2 separate regions of the Homo sapiens genome follow, and region 2 is linked to region 1. The links come from fine-mapping of genetic effects on plasma protein levels. Region 1 holds a variant in brackets. A gene starts in the other region. All regions are shown on their forward strands. Region 1 has its middle 8.8 kb from the start of PGBD2. Region 2 holds the start of EDA2R (ectodysplasin A2 receptor).

What was found. PIP is the chance, under the fine-mapping model, that this variant and not a neighbour inherited with it causes the effect. The UK Biobank Pharma Proteomics Project read protein levels with antibody pairs (Olink). The fine-mapping took linkage between variants from a reference panel, not from the people measured, so its PIPs are less certain.
Region 2: it holds the start of EDA2R, and the variant in region 1 is fine-mapped to the plasma level of the EDA2R protein (UK Biobank, PIP above 0.99).

The regions. Positions count from the first base shown.
Region 1 is chr1:248,894,703-248,900,082 of GRCh38, forward strand. It overlaps a transcript of PGBD2 not described here. Among named protein-coding and RNA genes, the nearest start is that of PGBD2, 8.8 kb to the right of the region's middle. RefSeq lists a silencer at 1,170-1,352. The variant G/A (reference allele first, on the strand shown) is at 2,805.
Region 2 is chrX:66,638,600-66,643,979 of GRCh38, forward strand. EDA2R (ectodysplasin A2 receptor) reads right to left here and starts at 479. Exons shown (of 7, transcript NM_021783.5): 1 at 396-479. RefSeq lists an enhancer at 1-299.

The DNA of each region.
Region 1 (5,380 bases):
TTTCTTTCTTGCTTGCTTGCTTGCTTGCTTGCTTTCCTTTCCTTCCTTCCCCTTCCCCTTCCTCTTCTCCTTCCTTCCTTTTCTCTCTCTCTCTTTCTTTCTTCTTTCTTAGATGAGGTCTCGCTCTGATTGTCACTGGCTGGAGTGCAATGACACAATCATAGCTCACTGCAACCTCAAACTCCTGTGCTCATGTGATCCTCCTGCCTCAGCCTCCTGAGTAGTTGGGACTCCAGGTGTGTATGGCCTGCATCTGGCTATTTTGTTGTTGTTGTTAATTTTTTTAGAGATGGGATCTTGCTATGTTGTCCAGGCTGGTCTCTAACTTCTAGTCTCAAGCTATCCTCCCAACTCAGCCTCCCAAAGTGTTGGAATTATAGGCTTGAGCCATCACACCCAGCCTATAACAACTTTTCTGAGTTCTGTAAGTCCTTCCAGCCAGTCATTGAACCTGAGAGTGGTCTTTGGGTCAACCAACAACAGGCCAATGTTTGGGAACTTAACAAAGAGAAAGAAGCCAGAGGAGTGTGACTGTGGCCACAGTCTGGTTTTCCTCTGATTTCACAGGGACCAGTCCTGCCCACAGAGTGCTAGGCCTCCTCTTTGGTGGTGAGTAGCCCCCATATTTGTGGCTATACTGCCAGCCCAACCTGGCACACAAAGAGGAGGAAGGACAAAGAGGAGGAAGAAGGTCTGAGTAGCAAGGGTTCTGCTGCTCAAGGAAGCAAGACTACCTTTAAGAATTGGCTCCTGTTCTGTTCCCCAATCCAATAATCATCCTCGTGTCTGGTGCTGTTAGACATTTAAGGAATTAAATATCTTAATGATATTTAAGGCTTGCAGGGTATTTTTTTTTCTTCATTATTTTGGAGGAAACAGGTGGTTCTTGGTTACGTGGATAAGTTCTTTAGTGGGATTTCTGAGATTTTGGTGCACTAAGATTTTGGTACCTGAGCAGTGTACACTGTACCCAATGTATAGATTTTTTTGTTTTGTTTTGTTTTTAGACAGAACCTTGCTCTGTCACCAGGCTGGAGTGCAGTGGCGTGATCTTGGCTCACTGCAACTTCCGCCTCCCAGGTTCAAGCGATTCTCTTGCCTCAGCCTCCCAAGCAGCTGGGACTACAGGCACGTGCCACCACGCCCAGCTAATTTTTGTATTTTTAGTAGAGACAGGGTTTCACCATGTTGGCCAGGATGGTCTTGATCGCTTGACCTTGTGATCCGCTCACCTCGGCCTCCCAAAGTGCTGGGATTACAGGCATGAGCTACTGCACCCGGCCCACTGTATAGTCTTTTATCCATCACGCCCCTCCGACCCTTCCCCCGCCCCGAGTCCCAGAAGTCTATTATATCATTCTTATGCCTTTGCATCCTCATAGCTTAGCTCCCTTATAAGTGAGAGCATACAATATTTGATTTTCCATTCCTGAGTTACTTCACTTAGAATAATGGTCTTCAACTCCATCCAAGTTGCTGCAAATGTACGGCTTGCAGTTTTATGCAGTTTTAAATAGGCTCCCTGGTTCTCAGGCCGTTGACTCAAATTGGAATTACAACACTGGCTTTCCTGGGTCTTCAGCTTGCAGACAGCAGATTTTGAAACCTCTTAGTCTCCATAATCCATAAGCCAATTTCTCATAAATCTTTTCATATATACATATATATATATATTCTCTTGGTTCTCTTTATCTGGAAAACTCTAACTCTCACAATCATGCATACGTTTATCATTCCTTATGGATATTCTTTTTCTTTTAGAGATGGGGTCTTGCTCTGTCACCTAGGTTGGAGTGCAGTGGCACGATCACAGCTCACGGCAGCCTCAAGCTCCTGGGCTCAAGCAATCTTCCTGCCTCAGCCTCCTGAGTAGCAGCACACCTATAGCTCCAGCTGCTTCTAATTGGCCATCTTGGCCCCTCCCTCCTACAAAAAACTTTTAGAGGGAAGGGACAAAATTACTGATTAGAAGCAGCTGCAGTCTTCAGCGCTCACCAAGAAGAATGAAAATGGTAAGTGCATTCTATACCTTCAACTGAGATATCCAGTTGATATTGGATGCTGGCTAGGCAGTGACCCATGGAGAGCAAGGAAAAGCAAGGTGGGGCGACAGCCCACCTGGGAGCTGCATGGAGCAAGGGGATCGCCCGCTCCCAGGCCAGGGAGGCCGTGAGGGATTGCACTACCCCACCCAGGAAATCACACTTTTCCCATGGATCTTTGCAACCCATAGATCAGGATGTAAAAAGTAAAGTAGAGGTTCCTCTTCAAAGATTTTCCTCCCCATTTAATTAGGAATAAATAGTAACTTCTCTTAGAAGCAAAATTTATTCAAAGACCTGTGCTAACATTCTTAAATATCTGCTAGCCGTGGTAAAGAAATCAAAGTACTTTATGTCACAATTTAGCCTAAATATTTGCCCTAGCATGCTTATGCTGGTCCAAGCAAGCATTAGGTGATAGCCTGTTCCTCTTCCTTATGTGAAGGTGCTTTTTACCTTTCTCAGCATTCCACCAGTTACTTCCTCCTTCCTTTGTTCCCCTCTACCTTTGCCTCTTTAAGAAAGTTCTAAGTTGCTAGCCGATCGGAACAAATACAGGATGTGAGGTCCCGTGCCAGCCGATGGAAACCAGACACAGCAGTAGGGTGGATGCGTCAGGTTATAAATGACCCTGTCTTCTTTGTTTGGTGTACTCTCATGGCAAAACTGCTGGCAAGCATACCTTTTCTGCAGTAAGTAAAAATGGCCTTGCTGAGTAAATTAAATGTATGTTCAAGTGCTATTTCTTTACGGCACTGGGGA[G/A]CAAGCATTTCAAACAAGGAGATTCCTTCTTGAGCCTATGCCACCAGGGCCTTGGGTCCCAGGCACAGAGCTGTGCAGACCTGGTGGCCACTCCAGTCAGCAGCTGCTCGGGAAGGCACAGAGATGCAGGAGTTTTTGCATGCTGAAGCTTGAAAATTCCTGTGAGGCAGGAGATCTGTCTGTTCCTGTAGGAAGGGGGCTGAAGCCAGGAACCCAAGGGGCATCTTTCAGTGGGCTCCACTCCCACAAAACCTTACCAGCTAAGACCCACTGGCTTAGAAATCCCCATGGGCCAGTGGCAGCGACTGGAGACTGCCTGAGATGACCGAGTTCCTGGGGAAAGGGGCAGCTGCCATCTCTGCAGCTCCAGTTGGCTATTTTGCCCTCCTAATGCTGGGGAGACTGGGTGGTTTGGACCGGGAGGGATTCCCCACAGTGGAGCTCAGCAGCTACGGCAGGTTGTGGCCAGATTGCTTCTTTACATGGGACCCCGACCCATTCCTCCTCACTGGGTGGGGCCTCCCTGTGGGAATTTCAGCAACTCCAGCCAGGGTTTAATGGACAGAACTCTGATCTCCCTGGGATGCAGCCCCTTGGGGGAGGGGCAGCCATGGTCTCTGCAGTTCAGCCGACAGCCTTTCCCGCCTGCTGGCTTTGGAGAGTCTGGGCAGTCCAGATGACAGGGGTTCTCCCCAACAGTGTACCAACTCCACCAAGGGGCAGCCAGACTACTTCTTCAAGCAGGTCCCCCCAATCCTATCCCTCCTGACTGAATGAGACCTCCCAACAGGGGTCTCCAGACACCTCCAGCAGCATTTGGGCTTGAATCAGGTCAATGTTCCTCTGGGAAGGAGCAGGCTGCCACCTTTGCTCTCCTGACCTCATGATCCGCCCACCTCGGCCTCCCAAAGTGCTGGGATTACAGGCGTGAGCCACCGCACCTGGCTCAACATTTTTAAAGAAAAGAATTTCAAACCCAGAATTTCATATCCAGCCACACTAAGCTTTATAAGCAAAAAAGAAATAAGACCCTTTTCAGATGAGCAAATGCTGAGGGAATTCATCACCACCAGGCCTGCCTGGCAGGAGCTCCTGAAGGAAGCACTAAATATGGAAAGGAAAAACCGTTACCAGCCACTACAAAAACACACTGAAGTACACAGACCAACAACACTATGAAGCAACTACATAAACAAATCTACAAAATAACCAGCTAGCATCATGATGACGGGAACAAATTCACAAAGAAAAACATTAACCTTAAATGTAAATGGGCTAAATGCTCCAATTAAAGGACAAAAAATGGCAAACTGGATAGAGTCAAGACCCATCAGTATGCTATATTCAACAGACCCATCTCACATGCAGAGACACAAATAGGCTCAAAATAAAGGGATGGATGAAAATTTACCAAGCAAATGGAAAACAGAAAAAAGCAGGGTTTTTTTGTAGTTTCTGACAAAACAGACTTTAAACCAACAGAGATTAAAAACACAAAGAAGGGCATTACATAATGGTAAAGGGTTCAATTAAACAAGAGGAGTTAACTATCCTAAATATATATGCACCCAATACTGGGGCACCCACATTCTTAAAACAAGTTCTTAGAGAGTTACAGAGAAACTTAGACTCCCCTACAATAACAGTGGGAGACTTTAATACCCCACTGACAATATTAGACAGATTATAGAGACAGAAAATTAACAAAAATATTCAGGACCTGAACTCAGATCTGAATCAAGTGGATCTTATAGATATCTACAAAACTCTCCACCCAAATTCAACAGAATATACATTCTTCTCATCACCACAAAGAACTTACTATAGTTGAACATGTAATCTGAAGTAAAACACTCCTCAGCAAATGCAAAAAACTGAAATCATAACAGTTTCTCAGAACACAGTGCAATCAAATTAGAATTCAAGATTAAGAAACTCACTCAAAACCACACCACTACGTAGAAATTGAAAAACCTGATCCTGAATGACTCCTGGGTAAATAATAAGGCAGAAATCAAGAAGTTCTTTGAAGCCAATGAGAACAAAGAGACAACACACCAGAATCTCTGGAATGCAGCGAAAGCAGTGTTAAGAGGAAAATTTATAGTACTAAATGCCCACATCAAAAAGCCAGAAAGAGCTCAAGTCAATACCCTAACATCACAAATAAAAAACTATCCCCAAAGCTAGCAGAAGACAAGAAATAACCAAGATCAGAGTAGAAATAAAGGTGATAGAGACATCAAAAACCCTTAAAAAAATCAGCAAATTCAGGAGCTGTTTTTTTTGGGAAAAAAAAAAAAAAGTAAAATAGATAGACTACTAGCTACACTAATACAGAAAAGAAGGAGAAGAATCAAATAGATATAATTAGAAACAATAAAGGGGATATCACCACTGACGCCAATGGAAATATGAACAACCATCAGAAAATACTACAAACACCTCTATGCAAATAAACTACAAAATCTAGAAGAAATGGATAAATTGCTGGATATATACACCCTCCCAAGACTGAACCAGGAAGAAGTTGAGTCCCTGAATAGACCAATAATGAGTTCTGAAATTGAGGCAGT
Region 2 (5,380 bases), not on the chromosome of region 1:
GCAGTTCTGCTTTCCTCAGGATGCTCCACAAGTCTGATCCACTGTCCCCGCCTTCACTAACACCCAGCCTCCTTCTCTTCTTTATCTCCCAACCCTAGATGCTCAAGGTTGTTGGACACGTCCAGGCATGTTCTCAGAGGCAATGCAGGTCCAGTAAGAGCCTACAGGAAATGGCTCGCCAAGATCCTAGAGATGTCAGCCCAGATCCCTGATACCTCAGAAAGCGCTCTCCGGACACAAATGGATGGACTGACAGCCAGCCACAGGGCGCCTTCCCAATTGTTCTGATTTTGCGGTACCCTAGCAGGATCATCCTGACCTGATTCTGTACTTCTGCACCTAGATGCCGCAGGTCCCAGCCGCCTTGCCACACCAGGGGGTGTTCCCACACTCACCCGGTAACGGACGAGTAGATGGCTCTTGCTCCCAAATGGGACTCCGGTACAAATCCACCTCAGCGCAGAGCACACATCTCACCCAGCCCCCTCCCGTCACCCCCCGCCCTTCACCCCGCGCCCCTCAGCCCCCGCCCCTCAGACCCGCCCATCAGCCCCGCCCCTCAGCCCCCGCCCCTCAGCCCCCAGCCTGCATACACACTCACAGTATATGAAATTCCTTGTAATCAAAGTTCCGCTTGACTCATTTCACATCCACGTGTAGCAACAACAGCCCAAACCCTCCTTTCACGGTAAGCTTACCTCTTCCGCCCCCGTGAAGTTCCTAGAGCAGCTATTGGACTGTTTGAGTGCCTAGGCGTGGCTACGAAAAGAAACTGCCTTTGAGAGGAACAATGTGAGGCTGAAGAACAGTGACCCAGCCACTGGTATGGCAGGAGCTGCAAATCTCCTGGGACTGAAGCGGGGGCCAGAGAGTAGAGGGCCAGGGAGTGGGGTCCAGAGAAAGCATCAAGTTGTCTCTTTCACAGCTGAATGCAGCTCAGCTCATCAAAGTTTATTCATGACTTAGCAGGCTTGGAGTTTGACAGGGAAAATTATTGTTGGAAAAGCCAAAATTTTCAGACACATGGAGAAGCCGCTTTCCAGCTCTGCATCTGCCTCAAAAAAATACTCCTCCATTCAGAAGGGTAGATAGGATTGTGACAGGAGGAAGAGAGCAGACATGAAGCAGGGAAAAGACCACTAAAAATAAAGGAAAATTGGATTCGGCACTCAGCTTTGATCATCCATCTTCTCTGGGCCCCTGAGTGTCTGTACAAGGAGGGGGTTGAGCTACGTAGTCTCTAAGGGCACTTCAAACAATGACACTTTGGGAGTTTATTAATCCATGATCTCAGAGGCAGCGGTGGATAAATCCCGAAACGTTACTAGTCCCTGACCTTGAAGAGTTTGCAGAGCTGGGAAGATAAAGTAGACCGGACAGAGACAGAGAATTAAGGGCCAAACTATGAGGTGCAGACTGGAAGGGTTTGGGGGCCAGTAGGAAGAAGGAGTAAAAAAGAGTCTGACAAGGAAAGCAAATGCTTTTCAATAGATTAGGAGCTTTTAAAAGAGGTCAAAGAGGAAATAGCCTAATGGGTAGAGGAAAAGAAAAGCTTGAGCCAAGGTATGGGGGAGAGGACCAAGAAATGAGCCATTATCAGTCTCTGAGGGACCCCTCCTGTACTGGGCAGAGGCTATATGCCAGCTCAGGGTGGAGTCTCAGTAAAGCAGCTGAAAAGCCTTTGGTGGGAAAGGGCTGAATAGGCCCTAAGCTGAAGTAGAAAAAGTCCTAAATGAACTTCATATCTGTCCCCTAGCTAGAGTTAAGACCAGAATAGGCTACTGTGGGCTCAGGCCTAGTAGAAGGGAAAACTGCCAGAATTGGAATCCTAGGTCTGCCCCTTACTAGCTTTGTGACCTAAGGCAAGTTACTTAACCACTCTGTGGCTCAGGATTCTCTTCTGTAAAGTGGGGAAAATAACAATCCCTTACTCATAGGATTGTTTTAGGTATTATATGAGTTAATATACAAAATAGTGTTCATATGCGTAAGGAGCTTAGAATGATTTCTGGGACGTAGTGGTATAGAAGTGTTTATTAAATATAAATAAATACATGAATGCAATTTAGGGACCTCTGAAATCATCTGTGAGATTCAAATGAAAATAGCTACCCTGGGTACCTCCTAATTCTGTTCTGTCCTTTCCTAGAAAACAGGACCTCTTCTTTTTCTCCATCCTTTCCTACCCAGAGAAGCTGAATTACAGACAGTTTTGAAACTTTAGTGTAAAGAACCCTAGCTTGGAATTTAGATGTCTTGACAAAACTAAGTGTAACATCATGTAAATCTCTTCCTCTCTCTTAGTTTTCCTTTCTGCATCTGTATCCTGAAGAGACTGTTGGACTGGATGACCTTGAAACGCTAGAGCCGTGCTTCTCTCATATTAATGTGCACACAAATCACCTAAGGATCTTGTTAAAACACAGATTCTGAGTTAGCAGCTGTGGTGTGGGACTAAGACTCTGATTTTCTAACTGCTTCCAGGTGATATTGATGGTGCTGGGCCACAGACCATAGTTTTAGTAGCAAAGGTTTAGAAGGTGGACAAGAATAACATTTACTGAGCACCTATAAATCATGCATATGTGTCCCTTTATACCTTACAACCATTCTATGAGGTTGAGGTTACCATCCTCATTTTGTAGATGAAGAGGCTCCTTGTACTCTGTGATTCTGCCTGGAAGTACAGGAGGAAACTTGAGATAGAGGTACCAGGGATATGTCAGAGTCCACAAGCTATTGTGGAAAGTGATTATAAGCAGCAAATATGAAACCACTGTCCTCCACCATAACTTGTCCAATAATACTATAACAGTTAGCTGGCCCTCACTAAGCACTTGCCAGGCACTGCTCAAATTTTTTTCATGAATTAATTCATTTTATCTTCATAATCTATGAAGCCACAATCATTAGAATTATCCTCCCCTCTCCTTTTGCTCACACCTCACATTCAACCCATCAGCACATCCTATCAGCTCTGCCTCCTGCCTCAGAGATAAACTCTGAATTTCACCAACTTCTTAGCACCTTCACTGCAACCACTCTGGTGCAAGCCACGATTACTTTTCACCTGAATTATTGCCATATCCTCCAATAGCTCTCCTTGCTCTCATGCTTACCCCACTCCAGTCAATTCTCAGCAGAGCAACCAGAATGATCCTTTTAAAAGTACATCAGTCTAAGTCTGTCCAAGCAATTCTACTGGTTGGCTTCTTATTCAGCAGAAAACCCAAAATCCTTAACTATGGTCTATAATAGTCTACAATCTATCCCACGCCATCCCATCCTCACTAACCTGCCCCTCTATCTCTGATCTCACCTCTTACCACTCGCCTTGACCACCATACCCAACCCCAACTGGCGGCCTTGATATTTTTTCCAACACTCAAAGCATGCTCAAGACTCTGGTCTTTGCACTTGCTGCTCCTTCAGCCTAGCCAATTCTTCCCCCAGATATCAGCATGGCTCCTTTTCTCACTTCCTCCATATCCCTGCTTAAATGTCACTTTATCAAAGTGGACTTTCTTGAATACCCTAGCTAGTACAAGCTAATGGGATTGCCTAGGCCTTTTGAAATCCACTGGGTAGGTGAGCTTTTTCTCAACATAGCCCCAGGACCCCCGGTGCAGTGTGGTGGTGAGTAGGGTTAAGGCTCTCAACTCTGCTCTCTGTGGGGGAGCCACTCTAGCTCCATGTGCTTGTGCAGCAGAACTAAGTTTGGATCAGCTAATTTCTTGGGGGCTTTCCACAGCCCCTCCTTTTATGATAAACAGGAGTCACTTTGTGAACCCAAACTGAGAACTATCAGTACAGAGTTTCTCTACCTACATTCTACTGCTGGAACCAGCCTAACCTGACAGCAGGATAGGCAGGACCAGCCTCCACTCTGCTTATCTCTGGGACCAGACAGATTCTGGGGCTCAGTGAGATTCAGGGCTCTCTGATGCCACCCCTCAGCTCTCTCTCAGAGGTTACTTAGGGTCACTCAGGGGAATACTGGCCTTGGCTGTGTCTCAGAGAATCCTGGGTAGCCTCTAATTCTAGTGTCCAACAATGGCAGGACCACCTTTCATGAAGGAGCTTCATGGTTATCCAGGCAGAATGGGGCCCTTATAGCTCCTCTCAAGACTGGGACCAGGGGGCAGGAAAAGAAGCTGAAAGACTAAGGGGATGCTGAGGCCTGTGGGGCAACCCCTGTAAACTCAAACATTGCTAAGGATGTCCCTGAACACAATATCAGCTTCTTGTTCTCTTTAGCCTGTGAGATGTGTGTAGATAAACTTGGCCATAAATGTTTGCTGCAGTGGTGTATACAGGCTTAGGTCTTCTGAATTAGAAAGCTGGGGTATAAGAGTTACTTCTAGCCATGGGAATTTTCAAACTTCAGCTAGATTCTAGCACAGTCCAATAGTGTTATCTCTCATTTTAAATAATCTTCTATTCCACTTGCCCAAGATGGCTTTTAAAACTCACTCTTCTTAAGTCAAGTGCTCAACACAGCTCCCAAACCCCTAGCAGATGACTTCACCTCCAGTTTCACCGAGAATGTAAAAGGGCACGAAACTTGAAGTCTAAACAACTTCTGACATCTCCACATTCAAGTTCATCCTGTTTCTTACCTCAGAGTTTCCTCCTGTCCCTCCTGTCTCCATCTGTGTTTACTCCTGTCTATTCCATTTTGCTTTATTTGTATCTTCATGGTCTTTCTTCCTCTGGCTCTTTCTCCTAAATTGTCTTTCCATTCTGAACTAAGATTAATTCTTTTCATATCCTCACCTCCACCTCTTCATTTCCAAACTCACTACATTTTGCTCTTCTCAAGGTCACCCATGATTTTCATACTATCAAACCCATGGATTCTTCTGTTTTCTTATTTGAATTATCTAAAACATCCAACATTGTCTGGATTCTTTTCTTTCTGACTCTCTTCCCTTGACTTTCATGGAACTAATGTCTTCTAGTTTCACTTATTTCTCTACAGCATTTTATGGATTCTCATTCTCCACTTGCCCCTCAAGTGCAGGGATTTTACAGAGTTCCTCCCACCCTCCATTGTCCCTCTGGCCTGATTCTAACTTCTCTCACTGGAGTGTGAACCTATGTGGCAGGGACCTTATATACCATTTCACAAATTTCCACATGCAAAACTGTACCTAGAGTATTTTAAGCGCTCAATACATTTTTACATATTATATATATCAATATATCTGTTGAATAAGCCCAAGGAGAAAAATGTTCACATTTGAATGTATCCTTCTATAATGAGCTCCCAGGCCTCAGGTGTGCCACAATAAAAATAAGATGGCTAAAAAGGAATTGAAACCCACACCCAAAATAATAATAATAGCCAACACTTGATCAATGCTTGATGAACTCTATA